3 linked regions of the Homo sapiens genome follow. The protein of the gene in region 2 purifies or fractionates together with the protein of the main gene of each other region. This does not show direct contact. Each region holds a gene or a part of one and is shown on either strand. Other genes may lie near its edges.

Evidence for each region. The genes of interacting proteins can lie anywhere in the genome.
Region 1: the proteins of CCT7 (region 2) and DCAF7 purify together in Homo sapiens (affinity purification with mass spectrometry; 5 studies listed by BioGRID and IntAct, with this or other methods). This does not show direct contact.
Region 3: the proteins of CCT7 (region 2) and TUBD1 purify together in Homo sapiens (co-immunoprecipitation; 4 studies listed by BioGRID and IntAct, with this or other methods). This does not show direct contact.

Annotation. Positions count from the first base shown.
Region 1 is NC_000017.11:63,574,461-63,581,482, reverse strand, and holds part of DCAF7 (DDB1- and CUL4-associated factor 7), read right to left. Parts: intron 3,014-7,022; coding exon 2,855-3,013; intron 2,147-2,854; coding exon 2,035-2,146; intron 1,659-2,034; coding exon 1,540-1,658; intron 1-1,539. UniProt on the Homo sapiens protein: Involved in craniofacial development. Acts upstream of the EDN1 pathway and is required for formation of the upper jaw equivalent, the palatoquadrate. The activity required for EDN1 pathway function differs between the first and second arches.
Region 2 is NC_000002.12:73,230,190-73,237,310, reverse strand, and holds the start of CCT7 (T-complex protein 1 subunit eta), read right to left. Parts: upstream 3,004-7,121; 5' UTR 2,933-3,003; coding exon 2,927-2,932; intron 1,762-2,926; exon of another isoform or gene 1,666-1,761; intron 1-1,665. Other genes in the region: PRADC1 (protease-associated domain-containing protein 1 precursor), read left to right, coding at 4,151-4,217, 7,098-7,121. UniProt on the Homo sapiens protein: Component of the chaperonin-containing T-complex (TRiC), a molecular chaperone complex that assists the folding of actin, tubulin and other proteins upon ATP hydrolysis.
Region 3 is NC_000017.11:59,889,938-59,896,919, forward strand, and holds the start of TUBD1 (tubulin delta chain), read right to left. Parts: upstream 3,007-6,982; 5' UTR 2,760-3,006; intron 1,105-2,759; 5' UTR 1,066-1,104; coding exon 894-1,065; intron 1-893. Other genes in the region: RPS6KB1 (ribosomal protein S6 kinase beta-1), read left to right, coding at 3,248-3,388. UniProt on the Homo sapiens protein: Acts as a positive regulator of hedgehog signaling and regulates ciliary function.

The DNA of each region.
Region 1 (7,022 bases), on a different chromosome or scaffold from region 2:
CCCCTGGGCTCCAGGAACCCTGCCTCCTCCCATGGTCCCTCTGGCCTATAGGCAGCTGCAGCTTCCTGCTGCTCCCATTCTATGGATGACCTCACTGCTACCTATGTGGCTTCTCAGCTTTACCATCTTCTGTATAAGCAGCCCCTGGATTAAATCCCTGCAGTTCAAATACTTAAGAGTAGTTCCCATTTTCTGGGTTGGACCTAACAGACAACAGCAGGCTAAGTTGTCATATAACTAAAATGTAGCCGCTTGTTCAACTTGATGCCAAGAGGGTTTCCAGAAGTTCCTTACTGGTCCTCTCTGTGGGACAAACTCTTCATTTGACCCCTGGTTTAGCAGCAGTCAACTCTAGAAGTCTTGTAACAGGGCTTACCTTCAGGAGTACAGAAAGCCAAAGACAACCCCTTACTAAGAATGATAACCTGGGTCACATCTTCCTATGCTGTTGACAACCTCAAGTTTCTGACCTAAGATCAAGGCATTCCTTTTATCTGTATAGATATTAATACCCCTAGCTGTGCAGGGTAAGGTAGAAAAGAACAGGAAATAGTACCCACAGGAGATGAGAGTACCAGGAGCATGCAATGGCTGTAGGAGGAAAAGACTTATGGGGATTTTCCAAAATCACTGAGAAGAATGCTTTGATTAAAATGCAATTGGCCGGGCGCAGTGGCTCACGCCTGTAATCCCAGCACTTTGGGAGGCCAAGGTGGGTGGATCACCTGAGGTCAGGAGAGTTCGAGACAATCCTGGCCAACATGGTGAAACCCTGTCTCTGCTAAAAAATACAAAAATTAGCCAGGGGTGGTTGCGGGCACCTGTAATCTCAGCTACTCCGGAAGCTGAGGCAGGAGAATTGCTTGAACCCAGAAGGCAGAGGATGCAGTGAGCCCAGATTGCGCCATTGCACTCCAGCCTGGGCAACAAGAGGAAAACTTTGTCTCAAAAAAAAAAAAAAAAAAAAAAAAAAAAGCAATCACAAATAGCTCTTCTCAGTTTTCCCAATAAACACAGAAGCATCGCCATCAAAATAAAATATATTCCATTGCCTCCACTGCCAACAGTAATGAAAGTATAAAGATTAAGTGAACATACTAGGATTTGGTAAAACATTTATAGAGAAAAATGAATAATTACGTTTGTCTCTCAGAAAATTTTTTCTCTTCCTGTCTCCCTTCTTTCCTCCCCAAATCTAATCTGTTTCAAGATAAGTATTACTCTAAAGTTATTTTTTAATCACATCAGTTCCCAGCTCCTCTATAAGAGACTTTGTTATTTAAAAAAAGCAACCTCTGGCATGAAAAGAACAATGACAGACCGTAGAATAGGTCATTTACATTAGCCAAAAAAAAGCATTAGTTTACAATAGTGTTGTTTTCCCGTTTTTGATACATTACTATTGTCAATTTAGACAAGAAGATGTTATGTTATGATTTTCTACATAAATTGCAGAACAATGAGAGAACAAGCTGACCTCTTCCTGTGCGGAAGGCACAGGAAGCATTTGAGGAAAGACGAAATGGAAAAGCATCTTACCTCTTTGTCATGGGCGATCAGCTGGGTCTTCACGTGGCCAGACACGAGATTCACTCGCCCTAACACCTGCCCTGTCTCCAGCCCCCAGATGGTGCATGTCGTATCAATGCTTGAGGTACCTGCAAACAACCAGTGCAAGTCAGGGCTGACGGGACCAAGGTTCTCATGCAAGCTTCCCTCTTGTGTTTACTCATCTGCTCAGCCCAGGGAGCAGCATACCATAAAGACTACAGAAAACAAGGTGGGGGCTACCGGCAGAGCCACCGAGGCAGTCAAGTCTTCAGTCCTCACCGTAGGACCTTAGATTCTAACTGGAGAGACAAGATCTATACACACGGAAAGCTCACCCACACAAAGGAATTAATAAATAACCACATTCCACGCCTAGCCTACTTCCCACTGAGCCTTGTTCTAGGATGTATGGCCCAGTGTGACATCTGAGAAAATTTATTTTGGCTTCTTCCAGCTGAAATACATACTCCCTAACTCCCTTACCTAAAAGATAAGGATCCACCTCATTCCAGTCAAAGGAGGTCAGGGGAGCACAGAAATCAGAGTTCTTATTATTGTTTAGCAAACACTCCAGCCTGGTCTCTGTTTCACCAACCTGAAGGAACAAGAATTTTAAAAAAAATCAGCCAGTCTTATCCTCATAAAAAGTCTTTTAAAAAATCCCTGTTTAGAAAATATCTTAGCAAACATAAGACATGAGGGGAAAACATTTTTATCAAAAACAGTAATAAACCCAGGACTCCCTGAATGCTACTTTTTCCCATACTTTCTCCTCTGCCCAGCTTTGTTTTCTACATTTTCATCCCTGCACCTTCCTAGAGGAGAGGTCTTCTCACTTTGCCCAGCCTGGAACCTCTGCACAGGTGTACTAAGGCCACGCCCATGCTACAGAGGACGCTGCTGCTGATGAGCTCAGCTGAGGGTGGAGGGAAGCCTCCAAGATCCACTCACACACTTTATCAGAATCAATGGCCTGGTATTTCATTTAGTTTACTCAAAAATACCTTGGCTGCAAACAGAATATGAGTTCCCAAGTATTCCCACCTCCACTGAAGGCCGTCATCATCACCTCGGGTTGACTGAGCTGACTGCAGCCAGCAGCCAGACTTCATGGAATCTTGACTTGATATACTAGAAAATCTGCTGAGCCAAACGAGGCCAGTCCATTTAAGCTTCGCTTGCTTCTCCTGTGCTGCAATGACACTCGCTGCCTCTGACCCCTGTCTGTTCTGTGACTTTTCACTGCTAACAGCTGAGGCTGAGAAAGCCCACTTGTCTGGCTGCTAATAAAGCATCCGCTTACCCTCCACACACGGAGATAGTCACCGCTTGTTGCCAGTAGGTCTGGATAGACGCCTTTTGTGTCAGGGATCCACATGAGCTTTGTGGTGGGGTATGGGTGGTCAAAGGTGTTTCTGCAAATAAACTCTGAACTCTCCTCATCTAAACCAACAAGCTGAACCTGTAACATACCAAAGTTGAGCCACATAAGCATTTGTGAGCAGTACAGCAAATACATTAGATCCCTGGTCAGTGACAGAGGTTTTTTTTGTTTGTTTTTTGTTTTAAAGACAGGATCTTGCTCTGTTGCCCAGGCTGGAGTGCAGTGGTGCAACCACAGCTCAGTGCAGCCTCCACCTCCTGGTCTCAAGTGATCCTTCCACCTCAGCCTCTCAAGTAGCTGGGGTTAGAGGCATGCACCACCAGACACAGCTAATTTTGTTCATTTTTTGTAGAGACAAGGCCTCACATGTTGCCCAGGCTGGCCTTGAACTCCTGGGCTCAACTGATCCTCCCACCTCAGCCTCCCAAAAGTGCTGGGATTACAGACATGAGTCACTATGCCTGGCCAGTGACAGAAGTCTTGACACTGTACTACACTAAACTGCAGAATCAAAAACGATTGCCATGAGAGGGTATCTAGTCCAACCATCCTCTGGCAGACAAGGACACCCAGACTCAAAGGGGTGGTTACACTCAACACTGCAAAGCCAGTAGGAGACAGAGATTACAGGTTTTCTGACTCAAGTCTGCATTCTTGACTCCAACTACATAAGTGCACTATCTGCCAGGCCAGGCACACCTTCCCCTGAAACCCCTAAGGTATTTGAAAATGACCAGGGGTGGTTCTTGGCTGCCACAATGACTGAAGTGCTGAGGACATTTGGTGCTCAGGGGCCAGGAATATGAAACACCCTTTGCAATTTCATTAAACAAACTAATGCTCACTTAAAAATCCAATAGTGCACAACCCTCACCAACCCCAAACTCAACACTGGCTCATTATGTTTACACATAAAGGTATGTCAAATGACCGTTTGAGAGCCCAAACCACTGTGACTGGCAAAAAAAAAGTCGGCGCCATTGATGAGAAAGTCCCACCTAGCTCTGATCACTTTTTCTTAGAGTCAATTTTAGCCCACCATTAACTTCCAATCTTTGCTGTCAAACTCAATCTGGCTCAATGGGACACTAACTGTACATTTGCTTATGAACTTCCAACTGGAAGATGGAATAGTGGGGATATTTGGTAAACATCCACAATAAGGGGAAAAGCACTAACCAGACAACACAAAATAAAATTCCTTCTACTCATCTTTCTGACCTCAGTCTCAGACACACCAGTATCTTCCAGACATTTTCCCCCCAAAGTTAGGTATAGTTGCATATAATAAAACCCACTCAAGTGTACAGTTAAATGAGTTTTGGCAAATGTACAGTTGTATAACCCCCACAGTAAGATATAAAACATTTCCATTAACCCAGAAAGCTCTCCCAGGCTCCTCCGCAGTCAACCCCTCATACCTACCCCAAGTAGCCACTGATCTATGGTTTTGTCTCTCCATAATACGATATAAATAGAATCAGATGGTCTTGAGTCTTTGTGTCTGGCTACTTTCATCAGTACACTGCTCTTGAGATTCATCCATGTTCTTGTGTGTATCAGTAGTTGCTTCTTTTCTTACTGCTGAATAATATTGCATTATGTGCAATGTGGCAGTATAATTTTGGGTTGTTGAGATAGGGTCTCACTCTGTTGCACTGGTTCGAGTGCAGTGGTGCAATCGTGGTTCACTGCAGGCTCAACCTCCTGGGCTTAAGCAATCCTCCAGCTTCAGCCTCCTGAGTAGCTGGGACCACAGGCATGTGCCACCACACCCAGCTAATTTCTAAATTTTTTGTAGAGATGGGGTCTCCTTATGTTGCCCAGGCTGGCCTCGAACTTCTGGGCTCAAGTGATCCTCCTGGCTTGGCCTCCCAAAGTGCTGGGATTACAGGCGTAAGCACCGCACCCAAAAAATTTTTTATGTCCTAGTTGAGAAATCTTTGCCTAATCCCAGGTCCCAAATATTTTTCCCTGTTTTCTTCTAAAAGTTTTCTAGTTTTAGGCTTCATATTTAGGTCTCTGAGTCATTTCAAGTTAAATTTTTATATGGTACAAGATATGAATCAAGGTTTGCTTTTTGTTGTTGTTTTTCCTTTTGAGACGGAGTTTTGCTCTTGTCACCCAGGCTGGAGTGCAATGGGCACAGTCTTGGCTTACGGCAACCTCCACCTCCTTGGTTCAAGCAATTCTCCTACCTCTCTGCCTCCTAAGTAGCTGGGACTACAGGCATGTGCCACTACGCCCGGCTAATTTTTTAATATTTTTAGTAGAGAAGGGTCTTCACCATTTTGGCCAGTCTAGTCTCGAACTCTTGACCTCAGGTGATCCACACGCCTCGGCCTCCCAAAGTGCTAGGATTACAGGCGTGAGCTACAGCTCCCGAACAAGGTTTGCTTTTTTACATATGAACGTCTGACTCTTCCAGCATCATTGGTTGAGAATTCTTTCTCCTTTGCATTACCTTGACCCCTTTATTGAAAATCAGTTGACCATGTATTTATTCATCTATTTCTGGACTCTATTCTGTTCCATTATTTATTTGCCTATCTGTCTGCTAGTAGGCAAACTGTCTTGATTATAGTAGCTTTCTAGTAAGTTCTAAAATCAGACAGTGAGTTCTCCAACTTTGTTCTTCTGTTTCAAAATTGTTTTGCTATTCTCTACTTTTGCTTTTCCATGTACATTTTACAATCAGCTTGTCGAATTTTACAAAAAGCCTGCTGAGATTCTGATTGGGATTGTGTTGAATCTATTGAGCAGTCTGGGGAGAACTGACATCTTACAATATTAAGTCTTCCAACGCATAAACATAGCACATTTCTCCATTAATTTACGCCTTTTTTAAGTTCTTTTTTTTCAGACAGAGTCTCGCTCTAGCACCCAAGCTGGAGTGCAGTGGCACGATCTTGGCTCACTGCAACCTCTGCCTCCCATGTTCAAGTGATTCTCATGCCTTAGCTGGGACTACAGGTGCGCACCACCACGCCCAGGCAATTTTTGTATTTTTAGTAGAGATGGGGTTTTGCCATGTCGGCTAGGCTGGTCGCTAACTCCTGGCCTCAAGTGATCTGCCTGTCTCGCCCTCTCAGGGTGCTGATATTACAGGCGTGAACCACTACGCCCGGCTGCCTTAATTTCTTTCAGCAATGTTTTAAAGTTTTCAGTGTACTTCTTATGATTCTTTCATTAATTTTATTTCTTTATTTCTTTTTCTGAGACTGAGTCTCGCTCTGTCGCCTCAGCTGGAGTGTAGGGGCATGATCTCCGCTTACTGAAACCTCCGTTTCCCAGGTTCAAGCAATTCTCCTGCCTCAGCCTCCCATGTTGCTGGAATTATAGGCGTGCGTGACCACGCCTGGCTAATTTTAATTTTTATTTTTTGTATTTTTTAGTAGAGACAGGGTTTCACCATGTTGGCCAGGCTGGTCTCAAACTCCTGACCTCAAGTGATCTGCCCATCTCAGCCTGACAGAGTTCTGGGATTATTGGCATGAGCTACTGCGCCTGGCCCATTAACTTGATTTCTACACAAGTTTTATGCTATTATAAATGAAATTGTGTTTTATTTTTTTTAAGATAGGATCTTGCTTGTCACCCAGGGTGGAGTGTAGTGGCTCAATCACAGCTCACTACAGCCTTGACCTCCTAGGCTCAATTGATCCTACCACCTCAGCCTCCCAAGTAGCTGGGACTACAGGTACAAGCCACCGTACCCAGCTAATTTTTGTATTTTTTGTAGAGACAGGGTTTTGCCATGTTGCCCAGGCTGGTCTTGAACTCCTGGGCTCAAGTGATCCACCCACTCTGGCCTCCCAGTATGCTGGGCTTACACATATGAGCCACTGTGCTTGACCATGAAACTGTTTTAAATTCCATTTCCAATTGTTCATTGGTACTGTATATAGAAATACAACTGATTTTTGTACATTAATCTTGGCTTCTATAACTTTGCTACATTAGTTATTAGTTTTAGTAGCTTTTTTGTAGATTCCTAAGGATTTTTCTACATATATTCATAGATCTTGTCATCCATGTTTAACTCTTAAAAATCCATATGACTAAGTCTAAATATTCATTTTATGGA
Region 2 (7,121 bases):
GTACCCCCATCTAAAATAGTCACTCTGCCATCTTCTACCAAAACCACTTTCTCACCACCAGGCCACCAATTCCTCAGAGCTCCAATTCTTCCAAGAAGTTTTCTCTACAGTAATAAACAAGGGCATCTGAATAGGGGAATCCCATAACTTTCTCTTCACTTGCCCTTGCTCGCAACTTTTTATCACCATCCAGCTTAAGTACAAGCTTTCCAAAGACAAGGACCAAAATAACCTTAATTTGAAGAGTGCCAAGATTTGGCCACACATGAAGCAATATTCAGCAGCTTTTGGGGCTGAAAATCCAACTGCTACTTGTAAGTGCTTGACAGCACTGGCTTCTTGACTTTTGGGGAGAAAAGCACTGGCACTACAGTAACACTACATTTACTGAGAGTTCTTAAGCACAATGCAAGAAGAGCTTGGAAGCAGCTAACCACAGATTCCCCAGGTTCCCTATGCTTTGCAGGCCCTGAAGAAACAGCAGGCTGGGTAGAGAGCATCTATGGGGTGGAAAAGGTGGCAGAGCTGGATTGAGTCAAGCCAAGACAAGCAGGATAGGTCCTCTTCTAACAGTTCCCCAGCAGCAGGCACTGTATGCAAAGTCCAGTTTCCATCCCTTAGTTACTTTCAACCTCGCTCCTTTTTTTTATTCCTCTAATAAATAAGAAACAAGGTCGGGTGCGGTGGCTCACGCCTGTAATCCCAGCACTTTGGGAGTCCAAGGTGGGTGAATCACAAGGTCAGGTGTTCGAGACCAGCCTGGTCAACACGGTGAAACCCCGTCTCTACTAAAAATACAAAAATTAGCCAGGCGTGGTGGCGTATGCCTGTAATCCCAGCTACTTGGGAGGCTGAGGCAGGAGAATTGCTTGAACCTGGGAATGGAGGTTGCAGTGAGCCAAGATGGTGCCACTGCACTCCAGCCTGGGCAACAGAGCAAGACTCCATCTCGGGAAAAAAAAAAAAGAAAAAGAAACAAGAGCAGACTCCAGTAATTGGCCACAGGTATAATGGAAGGTTTTGGAATTTCAGCTTACTGATCTTCCTCTTCATCCTACTTTAAAACTTTCACTAAGCATCATTAAGCTTAATGGCTTACAAAACAAGTGTGTCTATGCCAAGGCACACAGCGCTCAACGCCACAAAGGCAAGGACATACATTTTATGCAAGCTGTACCAACATCACAGGACTGAGGTTTCAGGGGACCTTTTCACCTCTCTTTCGATTACAGAAGTATTCTAGAATATCAGGGGCCAATTTGAAGACAGGAAGACTCTTGGAGATAGAAGTTTCACATTCCAAAAATGGGGAGGAGATATCAAGAGCCAATACAGCAGGGAAACGTCAATCTGACAGAGGAGGGGTCAGTTCAGGGAAAATCCAAGTGTGATGATCTAGAGCCCACTGGTGAAGTTTTATCACGGCAGAGAATGGCGGTTCTGATCCCTAGCTGTGTGAATGTGAACCAAAGCTCTTACGGAAGCCCTGGCAGCGGGATGGACTGATTTCAGAGATGAAAGGAAGCAAACAACCACCTCGCCGAGTAAGAGCTAACATTGCTGAGTGCTTACTATCTGCTAGGCACACTGACAAACTGAGAACCAGAAATTAAATAACATGCTCAAAGTCACACAGCTAGTAAGTGGCAGAGCTAAGTTACAAACCTAGGCATTCAGTGTAGCTCCAGAGGCCTTACTCTCAACTGCTGTACTATGCTGCCTCTGCACAGAAGATGAAGACGACTTCAAGAATGAGCAATGCTAGAGACATAAAGGGGAGAGGAAGTACTGTTAAATGCTAATTTCCTTCTACCTTGGGTACAAGCGGGATTCATAGGGCATTTGGTAGAACACCTAAAAGGTGTCTGCGTCCCTAACAGGACAGAGAAAAGCTGCAGGAAGCAGGAAAAGAGCAGAAGATAGAGTCGGACAGGCCAAAATGAATAAGTGAACTGCCAAGTGCACAGAAAGCAGTATCTCAGTCAGGGTCAAACACCACCTCGGAAGCTGGCCCTACTCAATAACAACCCAGGAGATACCATCGAGGCTTGGGACCCACGGAAAGTATCTAAAGCTCCGAGAGACAGAGAAAAGAAGTGTGGGAAGTAGGGCTACAAGGAGCACTTTAGGTGGCTCCAGGACTCACAGCAACTCCCTCGCCCCAAATTTCAAGAAAACGAGACCCAGAGTTAGGTAGCCAACTAGAAAAGCCTTTCTTATGTCACCAGAGTCCGAGCCTGGGTCTTCCCACCTCCGATACAGTGTCTCCATCTACCTTTCCCGTTCTCCTGGCTGAGAGGCTGCAACCCCCAGCAACCACCAGGGCCTGGTACATTCAGTAGGCACTAAAGACGCGTTTATTTAATGACTGAGCGAATGAGTGAATGAATTAAAAGTACTAGGGAAGGCGTCTGCTTCTCTGCACGCTGCGGTGAGGGTCAGCGAGTGAACATAGTGAGTCCCTAGGCGGGCACAATATGAGGTCCCCAATGTGCCTGTGCCGGTTCCAAGAAGCACACGTCTTTACAGCCCGCAAATCTCAGAGCAGCCCCAGCTTCCAAGTCTAGCTGCCGACCGCGTAACCACGGCCGACCTGCACTCGTTTCACGCAAGTCCCGATCATGCGGGGCTAAAAAAGAGGTCCCCGACGTGGGTTCGCGGGCCCGAAGCACCCTGGGACTTGTAGTCCCCAACCGGCCAGCCCAGAGACTCCTCTAAAGCCCCACGCAGCCCTCGCCAACGGCTCCAGCGCCGTGCTCGGGCCGAGCCAGGCCGCGGCTGGCTGGGGTCGCCCCTAAGCTGGGGATCTGGGCGAGGACAGAGGCGGCAAGCAAAAGAGGGTCCTACAGAGCAAGCCCAGGCCGAGCGGCGCCGGCCACCGGCCAGATGGCAGCTGATGGCGACGGATGCGCGAGACGCCACTCACCATCATTTTGGAAGCTTATTCAGCGGCCCGCCACTCTCCCCTCTTCTCCGAGACCGGGCCGCCCAGCAACCCACAATGCCTCGCGCAATAGAAATACCCAGAAGCTTGGGCCGGGAGAGGAAGAGAACGGACCACTTCCGCTACTCTATGGTTCGTTACCACCGACTCGGTGCGGCTAGAAGGACCTGAGGCTGGGCTTCGGGGACTCTCTAGTGAGGGGCGTTCATTAAAGAGGGGTCGCCGCATTTCGGTCGTGCTTCTTAGAGCACGGAGGGTCTTTGCTCGGCCCGCATCACCTACTAACTTAATTCCACCCTCCTCCATCCCCGGACGCCAGACCAAGGAATGCAATAAAGGCAAAAGTGTGGGACGCAAAGTGTGGGATAGGCTGGTGCCAAAGCACTTTACGTGAGCGATCTCATTTAATCCTCACAACCCTATTGCGTTGGTCCTATTAAGGCCATTTTACTGATGACAGAAAGGAGGCTGAGAGGTCAAGGTGTCCAGTGTCACAGTTACATAGTCAGTGTCAACGGGACGAGCGTGGGAAGCTGCCCCCAATGCCCGTTTTCTGGCTTTGCACTGGCCAGAGGCTCCTCGTGGATGGCGTGCGCCAGGCCGCGGCCCCAGCGCCTATCCACGGTGAGCGCGCAAGCGTTGGTGGCACTGGGCGGAAGACCCCCTGGCGCAAGACGAGTGCCTTCCCGTGAAGGCGTGGGGAGGAGGGAAGCGCAGCTGGGAGGAGGGAAGCGCAGCTGGGAGAAGGCTAATCGTCGTCAATCGAGGCGGCCTTGGAGTGGACAGGACCGAGACCGCAAGGGTTAACGGCCTCGACTATCGACAGCTGAAGCAAGTCCGGCTACGGGCACACCTCCAGTGCTTGTCCTCCCTGGCCCGCCCACCGCCAGCGAGGACCCGGAGAGTATGCTGGGGCGGGGCTGAGGCGAAGGCCGGTTGTAGCTGTTAAGAGTTTAAGCCAATCAGCCCCCGGCTCCACTTCTCTCGACCAATAGGAAGTAGGCTAAGGCGCAGAGGCGGAAAGTGTGGCTACATGAGCAGGCGTCAGAGCCAATCAGCCTTGAGCCTCGTTCCCGTCGTCCAGCCCGCGGCGAGAGCGGGTATGTGGGCGGGAGGCCGGAGCAGCTGTCAGGCTGAAGTCCTGCGAGCGACGCGCGGCGGGGCGGCGAGAGGAAACGCGGCGCCGGGCCGGGCCCGGCCCTGGAGATGGTCCCCGGCGCCGCGGGCTGGTGTTGTCTCGTGCTCTGGCTCCCCGCGTGCGTCGCGGCCCACGGTGAGCGGCAACGGGTGGGACTGCGTTGCAGGGCGGGGCTGGCCGTCCAGCTTGCGCGCGTCTCGGGTTGGGGGCCAAGGGTCACCTTGGGGACCCTGCGAGTTCAGAGCAGGACAGGTCTGGGAGCGGGCGGCCGGAATAAGTGGGTGGTGGTCCAAGGACATAAAGTGGGCGCAGCCTGAGGCTGAAGCTCTGACTCCTCACCTTCCCACGACAAAGCAGATCTCCCCACTCGCCCCTCCCCGCCCACTAGCGCCGACCCAGGTGACTTAGGGTGCGACCAGAAGGGACAGCTAAGGAAGGATACTACAGGCTGGAGATATGTATGTGAGCATTCACATGTACACAGGAGCACACATTCCTACACGTGGGCACACACGCACAAACCGTTTACACCTACACAAGCACATAAATGTATACATCTATGCACATAAGTGAGCACATACGTATACCCACAACTTACACAAATAAGCACACACAAAGGCAAGCAAGGGTTGGGGAGGAGGGAGTGAGTTTGACGCTAGTCCAGGAAGGCTTTCTGGGGGTGTATTTGTATCCGAGAGGGAGTCCCCACTCCCAGGACTGTATAGCCCAGTGCCAAGCCATGGGAGCTCTAACTGATGGCTGTGATTTGGGCAGTAAACAAAGACAGCTAAAGCCTTAATGCCATCCTTGGTACACAGTAGTGACTTGGTAGTTTGTTGATAGACTAACAGACTTGTGACAGCAGTTTTCTTTTTTTCTTTTTTTTTTTTTTGAGACGGAGTCTTGCTCTGTCGCCCAGGTTGCAGTGCAGTGGCCCGATCTCGGCTCACTGCAAGCTCCGCCTCCCGGGTTCACGCCATTCTCCTGCCTCAGCCTCCCAAGTAGCTGGGACTACAGGCGCCCACCACCACGCCCGGCTAATTTTTTTGTATTTTTAGTAGAGACGGGGGTTTCACCGTGTTAGCCAGGATGGTCTCGATCTCCTGACCTCGTGATCTGCCCGCCTCGGCCTCCCAAAGTGCTGGGATTACAGGCGTGAGCCACCGCGCCCGCCCATGACAGCAGTTTTTATCTTTCAACATTCCGCAGTCTCTCTGGGTTAAGGAAACCAGGGACTCAAGTCCAGGTACAACATTAAACTTTGGTGCTGAGGAGAAGATCCCATGCCCCAGAAAAATCTAGTGGTCTGGAAATTCTCTTCATCGGTGCTGTGGAGCTAGATATAGTTGTTCACCCATTCAGGAAAGTTTATAGGGCTATCCCTATATTGTAGCCACTGTGCAAGACACTGGTGACTCTTCACTGAATGAAGTTACAAAGTGGAAGAGGCAGATATTTAAAAATTATGAATCCAGGGCAGGTGCGGTGGCTCACGCCTGTAATCCCAGGACTTTGGTAAGCCAAGGTGGGAGGATCACAAGCCCTGGCAACAAGGCGAGACCCCATTCCTATTTAAAAAATGAAAAAAAAAAATCAGCCTGGTCAACATGGCGAAACCCTCTCTACTAAAAAATACAAAAAAAAATTAGCCAGGCATGGTGGCGCACGCCTGTAGTCCCAGCTATTTGGGAGGCTGAGGCATGAGAATCGCTTGAGCCTGGGAGGTGGAGGTTGCTGTGAGGCGAGATGGCGCCACTGCACTCCAGCCTGGGTGATAAAGTGAGACCCTGTCTCAAAAAAAAGAAAAAGAGGCCGGGCGCGGTGGCTCACGCCTGTAATCCCAGCACTTTGGAAGGCCCAGGCGGGTGGATCACGAGGTCAGGAGATAGAGACCATCCTGGCTAACACGGTGAAACCCCGTCTCTACTAAAAATACAAAAAATTCTCCGGGCGTGGTGGCGGGCGCCTGTAGTCCCAGCTACTCCGGAGGCTGAGGCAGGAGAATGGCGTGAACCCGGGAGGCGGAGCTTGCAGCGAGCCTAGATCGCAACACTGCACTCCAGCCTGGGTGACAGAGCGAGACTCCGTCTCAAAAAAAGAAAAAAAGAAAAGTTATGAAAGCTGTATAATTACAAATTATGTTGAAAGTCCCCATTTATTAAAAAGTACATTTGAATGGGTATGGGAGGGCAATCATGAGGCAGAAGCTTTCTCTGAGGAAGTGACATTTAAGGTGTGACCTGAAGGATGACTAGGAAAGAGTCAGGTAAAGGGGTGGAAGTAGGGTGGCGTGGGAGTAGGGGGCCTTCCAGGCTCAGGGAACAGCCTGCAGAAAGACCCAGAGAAGTGAAGACACTGAAAGGCCAGTGTAGCTTGAACACAGGATGGAGGAGATGAGGTTGGAAGAGTGGCCAGGGGCCACAGCAAACAGGGTCTTGTAGGCCACAGTTTAAAAAGAGTTTAAATTTTAAATGCAAAGGGCAGTTATTGAAACCCTAGGTATGGTGATGTGCTCATAATTGCTAAGATGTTTTCGATTTCTGGTTGTTGCTTGGGGAGCAAGAATGGAGGCAGGGAGGCCAGGTAAGAAGCTGAGCTGTCAGGACAAGAGATGATAGTGACTAGACTTAAGGGGATGGCAGTGGGACCAGAAAGTCAACTTTTAAATTTTAGTGAGAATTGCTTTGTACGCAGGCCACTACATCTCTACCCTGAAACTCCCAGGTCTTCAGAGCAAAAATACTAACCCTGGAGCTCTCAGTTTTCCTGGCTTACTGCGTAAGCAGCAGCAGCAGCTGATATAAGCCTCTGGGGTTAATGACTCTGCATCAACTCTATCCTCCCCAGGACAGAGGCCATCTAGCCCCCAACCCTGCCACTAGTGGACCCCGTTGGCTGAAGCCAGGACCCTGAGCCCAGACTATAGCCAGCCCAGCTGAAGACACAGGGTCTGGGATCTGAACCTGAACCAGCTTGTTCCTGGGAGGCTTCTTACCTGTACTCTTTATCCTTCAGGCTTCCGTATCCATGATTATTTGT
Region 3 (6,982 bases), on a different chromosome or scaffold from region 2:
TCAGCCCGGGTGACAGAGCGAGACTCTCTCAAAAAAAAAAAAAAAAAAAAGAGAGACAGAGAAAAGAAAGAGCCAGGCATGGTGGCATGCACCTGCAGTCCCAGCTACTCAGGAGACCTGTGAATAGCCACCGCACTCCAGCTTGGGCAACATAGTGTAGTAAGAACCTGTCTCTACAAGAAAAAGAAAAAAAGAAAAGAAAAACAGTAGTTGGATCTGGTGATTCGGAGGTCACTGGAAACTTTTCTTAGAGCAGCTTCAATGATGCTATGTGGGGCAGAAGCAGGATCATAGGTGGTTAAGCAGGGTCCTTTTATTTTTTTTGGAGATGGAGTCTCGCTCTGTCACCAGGCTGGAGGGCAGTGGTGCGGTCTCGGCTCACTGCAACCTCTGCCTCCTGGGTTCAAGTGATTCTCCTGCCTCAGCCTCCCGAGTAGCTGGGATTACAGGCACATGCCACCACGCCCAGCTAATTTTTGTATTTTTAGTAGAGATGGGGTTTCACCATGTTGGTCAGGCTGGTCTTGAACTCCTGACCTTGTGATCCACTCGCCTCGGCCTCTCAAAGTGCTGGGATTACAGGCGTGAGCCACCACGCCCAGCCAGCAGGGTCCTCTTTTGAGAATCTTAGATGAAAGGCAAAGAGATAAGAAGAAGAAAGCCAGTCAATAGATGAGTTTTGTTTGGTTGGTTTTAAATTGGTGAGATCTGAGCATGCAGAAGGGAAAATGCCACTGGAAAAGCAAAGATTATTAACATAGAAATGAAAAGCAAAAACAAAGTAATTCCCTAGTGAGATGGGAAGGAATGGGGTTTAAAAACCATGTGGAAGGCCTGGCTTTGAAGGGGTTGGTTAGATCAGAGTAAAGGAGAGGACTGTGGGCCACACCTACCTCCATTCTCCTCCTCACTGAAGAATCTTTCTTTGCAAGATGCTTGATATGCCTCATTCTCTCTCATAGAGCAGAGTCCCTGGGAACTGTGTGAGTCACTAAGCAAAGCATCAAAAACTTCAAAACCAATCTGATTGCCACACTGACCAAGTTGCACTGTTACAATTGACATGCTGAGCCACAAACTAGGTGTATTACCTCTAAAAACAACCTGTAATCGAAAAAAATACGCTTTGAGAACCACTACATTACTAATAAGAACAAATAAAATGCCATGTATGTTAATTATACATCAATAAAAAGTCTTTTTTCCCCCCTGAGACGGAGTCTTGTTCTGTCACCCAGGCTAGAGTGCAGTGGCATGTTCTCGGCTTAATGCAACCTCCGCCTCCCAGGTTCAAGCGATTCTCCTGCCTCAGCCTCCCGAGTAGCTGGGATTACAGGCACGTGCCACCACGCCTGGCTAATTTTTGTATTCTTAGTAGAGATGGGGTTTCACCATGTTGGCCAGGTTGGTCTTGAACTCTTGACCTCGTGATCCACCTCCACCTACCTCAGCCTCCCAAAGTGCTGGGATTACAGGCTTGAGCCACCACGCCCGGCCCAAAAAGTCATTTTAAAATGCCACATACGTATATAATATTGGAGATAGAACAGCTGTGTTGTCTAAGGAGCTAGTCATTCAAGGAAGTTCTCATACTCTCTACATGGTTTTGGGATTTGTGATTTACTGTACCTGAATCCATTCATACACAGCTCAATAGTTTCCAAAATCTGATTTGTAATCACTTTTTTCCTAAACATATGTTTAAAACAAAACATTCTCCTCAGTTGAGGAGTGATAAAAGAAAAAAAGAGGCTGGGTGCGTGGCTCACACCTGTAATCCCAGCATTTTGGGAGGCTGAGTTGGGAGAATCACGTGAGCCTGGCTGTTCCAGACCTGGTCAACATGGCAAAACCCTGTTTGTACAAAAAATACAACCATTAGCTTGGCGTGGTGGTGTGCGCCTGCAGTCCCAGCTACTCGGGAGGCTGAGGTGGGAGGATCCCCTGAGCCTGGGAGGTCCAGGCTGCAGTGAGCCAAGATCTTGCCACCGCACTCCAGCCTGGGTGACAAAGTGACATCCTCCTGTCTCCAGAAAAAAAAAAAATTAAAATTAAAAAAATAAAAACAAGACAAAACAAATGCTGATTGAAGAAATTAGTAGTACCACCCTTCACACCACATGAACATGTAGAACACAGAAGTGTGCTCAACATTGTACATTCAATTAACATTAATTTTCTCTCTTCTAAATAATAGCTTACGCTTTCTCCACTAGTCTAGCCTGGTAACTTTAGTAAGACCTGTAAGAAAGATTTTGTGTTTAGCTCAGGTAGGACAGCAAGAAAGATGCAGCTTGGAGAAAGAAAACCAGATGAAATATTAACCGGGCGCAATGGCTCATGCCTGTAATCCCAGTACTTTGGGAGGCCGAGGCGGGAGGATCACCTGAGCCCAGGGATTCCAGACCAGCCTGGGCAACACAGCGAGACCCTGTCTCCATTTGAAAAAGAAAGAAAGCAAAAGAAACATTAGAGCAGTTCCTCATTATTTTTACCTAGGAAAAGACAAGTTTTGATAAAGACTTCACATCAGGTCTATGCAGCACTGGAAATGAGCCGTGGGTTGTGAGACAGACTCTGTGCTTAAAATGTCAAACCGGCAAAGTAGGTTTATTATTATCCTCATTTTACAGATAAGGAAACTGAGGCTCTGAAAGGTTATTGACTTTTCCAAGGCCACAGAACTAGTAAAGAGCAAAGCCAAAAGGTCCCCCGTTCCCCACGGGCCCCAGGAGTTCTCCACACGTAACCCGACTCACCGCCAGACGCCGACCAGCGCTTCTGTCCGGTTCAAACTTCGGACCAACCTACTCACCATGCGCATGCTCACTTTCAAAACGAAAAACTTACTGAGAACAAATGCGCATGTTCCATAAACGGAGAGTTTTGTTGTGTATATATTTTTTCCTATTCAGAAAGATTAATTACGCATGTTCAATTTCAATTTACGAACTTCAGATATGGTACGCATGCTCACTGTCCACCGAACGCTCCAGCTGACAATGCGCATGCTCTAGTCCTCCAAGCGCGACTTCGGCTGGTGTTTTGCGCATGTTTCTGCCAGCGCCTGGATCCTGCCGATAGTTCTGCGCATGTCCACTGCCCACTGTTTGGCTTCACGGAACCCTGTACGCATGCTCCTACGCTGAACTTTAGGAGCCAGTCTAAGGCCTAGGCGCAGACGCACTGAGCCTAAGCAGCCGGTGATGGCGGCAGCGGCTGTGGTGGCTGCGGCGGGTCCGGGCCCATGAGGCGACGAAGGAGGCGGGACGGCTTTTACCCAGCCCCGGACTTCCGAGACAGGGAAGCTGAGGACATGGCAGGAGTGTTTGACATAGACCTGGACCAGCCAGAGGACGCGGGCTCTGAGGATGAGCTGGAGGAGGGGGTGAGGCCCGGGGTCCCCGGGGGCCCGAGGTGACAGGGCCGGGGCGGCGGCGCGGGCTCAGGAAGCGCGGTGTGTCCTAGAGCGTGGAGACCCAGGGGGGCTCCTGAGGAGCTGAGGGTCGCGCGGCCTGAGACAGGGGAGCGGGCGGGGCGGTCATGGCCCTAGGTGTGAGGCCTCTGCGGGGCTCGCAGGTGCAGGTCGCACCCTTAGCCCCAGGTCAGCGCAGCCCCGAGCGATCTGAAGAGGGAAAGAGAACGGGCGCGTGGTCGATTCCTCGAGCTGTTGGACTTGAGTGTGGCGGGGAGCGGGTGGCGTGAGCGTGTGTTGGGGAGACGGGGGCTGCTCTTGCTGGGTGTCCCGTAAGTGCAGGCGAAGTGTGGAGGGTTTCCCTTCGAGTCTAGAATTTCAAGTATTGAATCTTCAGACCTCCCACAACCACCTCTCTTCTCGGCCTGTCGCTTCTCTCCTAGGAAGCGCTCAGCTGTTAGAAGTGACAGCTGAAAACTTCTGTCGGGAGTAGCACTGCCGCTGCTGTTACAGCCACCAGGAGTTTTATTTCGGGAGCAAGGGGGCTCTGCTGCATCTTCCAATCTTCCAGGGTTTGTTTGTTTGCTTTTTTTTTTTTACCCCCTTCCGTGTGACTTTTTAAAATAAGCATTTATAAGGACACACGGCACTTGTAACCTTTCCCCAAGTTGAAGATGTCTGTATTTTTTTCAGAATAATTAATGTAATTTTGAGGTGGAAAAAAAAACCAAAAACCAGTTGACAGCCTTGATTTAGCTTGCCAGAAATAAGTTGCCTGAACAGAGACTTGTGAATGGTGGTATGAGGGCTTTCCTTGCTGTAATTTAGGGTGCTAAATTTAGAATTGTATTTCCTAATGCATAGCTTGGTTTCACCCTGCTGGCTTAGTGGTTTGTTAATCTTTATGGAATAACTTTTTTTTTCCCTAGATAAATTTATCAAAAAATGACAAATTGCACCTGAAGTTCAAAAATGTTGTCATACTAAATCACTGATCCTGGACCAAATGATCATCAGTTGATAACCTCTTGGTAGTTTAGCATCTAAATTCCAATGTCTAGTTGAATACATGGGTTAATGACGTCAGATGTTTGCTCTAATTACACAGGGGCTTCCTTTCCCTTGCCTCACCCTCAGTTTTTCTCCTCTGGCACCTGCCCTACTGTTGACAAAAGATTGAGATGATGTATATAAAGAATTTTGAACACTTTAAGAAACTAAGTGGCCTAAAATAATACTGTTCTTCTTGTTTGTTTCTTTTGTTTTGTTTTGAGTTGGGTCTCACTCTATCACCCAGACTGGAGTGCAATGGTGCGATCTCAGCTCACTGCAATCTCAGCCTCCTGGGTTTAAGCGATTGTCATGGCTCAGCCTCCCAAGTAGCTAGGATTACAGGCATGCGCCACCACATCTGGCTAATTTTTGTATTTTTAGTAGAGACAGGGTTTCACCATATTGGCCAGGCTGTTCTCGGACTCCTGACCTCAAATGATCCACCAGCCTCGGCCTCCCAAAATGCTGGGATTATAGGCATAAACCACCATACCTGACCAATACTGTTCTTTTCATAATCAAATAAGACTAAATCAAAATCACACGGTTTAGAAAGTGGGTATTGAGTTGTGTGCTTTTTCTTTTCTTTTCTTTTCTTTTCTTTCTTTCTGGTTTTTTTGTTTTGTTTTGTTTTTGAGACAGTCTTGCTCTGTCACCCAGGCTGGAATGCAGTGGCGTGATCTCAGCTCACTGCAACCTCTGCCTCCTGGGTTCAAGCGATTCTCCTGCCTCAGCCTCCTGAGTAGCTGGGACTACAGGCGCGTGCCACCACACCTGGCTAATTTTTTGTATTTTTAGTAGAGATGGAGTTTCACTGTGTTAGCCAGGATGGTCACGATCTCTTGACCTCGTAATCTGCCCGCCTCGGCCTCCCAAAGTGCTAGGATTACAGGTGTGAGCCACTGCGCCTGGCTTTTTTTTTTTTTTTTTTTTTGAGACAGGGTCTTCCTCTGTCACCCAGGCTGGAGTGCAGTGGTGCGATCTCGGCTCACTGCAGCCTCTGCCTCCCAGGTTCAAGCGATTCTCCTACCTCAGCCTCCCAAGTAGCTGGGATTACAGGGGCGCGCCACATCACCTGGCTACTTTTTTTGTATTTTAGTAGAGATGGGGTTTCACCATGTGGCCCAGGCTGGTCTTGAACATCTGACCTCAGGTGATCACCTGCCTCAGTCTCCCAAAGTGCTGGGATTACAGGTGTGAGCCACCCCACCAGGCTTTTTACTTTATTTTATTTTAATTTTTTTTGAGATGGAGTCTCACTGTGTAGCCCAAGCTGGAATGCAGTGGCCTGATCTCGGCTCACTGCAGCCTCCGCCTCCTGAGCTCAAGCGATTCTCGTGCCTCAGCCTTCCGAGTAGCTGGGACTACAGGCGCGCACCACCATGCCTGGCTAATTGTTTGTATTTTAGTAGAGATGGGGTTTCACCATGTTGCCCAGGGTGGGCCTGAACTCCTGAGCTCCAGCAATCTGCCAGCCTTGGCCTCTCAAAGTGCTGGGATTACAGGCGTGAGCCACTGCATCCGGTTGGTGTGTGCTTTTTCAATGATGTTTTCATGCAGAATTCCAATTAGCCTCTTAATCGAACATAATGGTACACTAGTTACAATTGGAAACAAATATGAGATTACTTTCATTATTTATACCATATACCATACTCTTTATCAGTTATGTTGGTTCTCTATGACAGTGGCTTTGGAGCAGGGCAGGGGAGAAAACTGGATAGGAAGGTGCTTTATATCTTCATTAGTTGAACTGATAGAATTTCCAGACTGGGTTTATTTTATTTTATTTTTTTTTCTTTTCTGAGACAGAGTCTTGCTCTATTTGCCCAGGCTGGAGTGCAATGGCGCTATCTCGGCTCACTGCAGCCTCCACTTCCCGGGTTCAAGCGATTCTCCTGCCTCAGCCTCCCGAGTAGCTGGGATTACAGGCACCCGCCACCAGGCCCGGCTAATTTTTGTATTTTTAGTAGAGACGGGGTTTCTCCATGTTGGTCAGGCTGGTCCGGAACTTCCAAACTTGGGTGATCTGCCTGCCTTGGCCTCTCAAAATACAGGTGTGAGCCACCGCACCCAGCCAGGTTTATTCTTTTTTGAAAGTACAGTACTCTGTTAAAATTCCTGTGTAAACTGGGACTTTTCTTTTCACTTTCTTGTGTTTCAAGAACAGTAGGTGTTCCAGGGCTTTTGTCCTGCTGGGTACAAGCAAGTAGGATTTTGAGAAGGTGTGAGGAGGAGGTCAGAAAAATTGGTGGAAATAGGAAAGAGAAAGAAATATGGCCCCGATTTTGGGGAGAGAAAGTCTGGGGAAAGAGCAAAGGCAATTAAAGAGGATTTTGAGGAAGAGACTTCTGTAAAATATGTCTTAGCAACACTTTTTGGAGTTGAAAATATTTCTTTTTAGTGTGTTATTTTTTCTAAGAGGTGCCTCAAGATGGATAATGGAAGATTTGGAGTACGATTGGGTTGACAATCCAAGGAGATTCGGTGACATCCAGATTACCCTGAAATAAA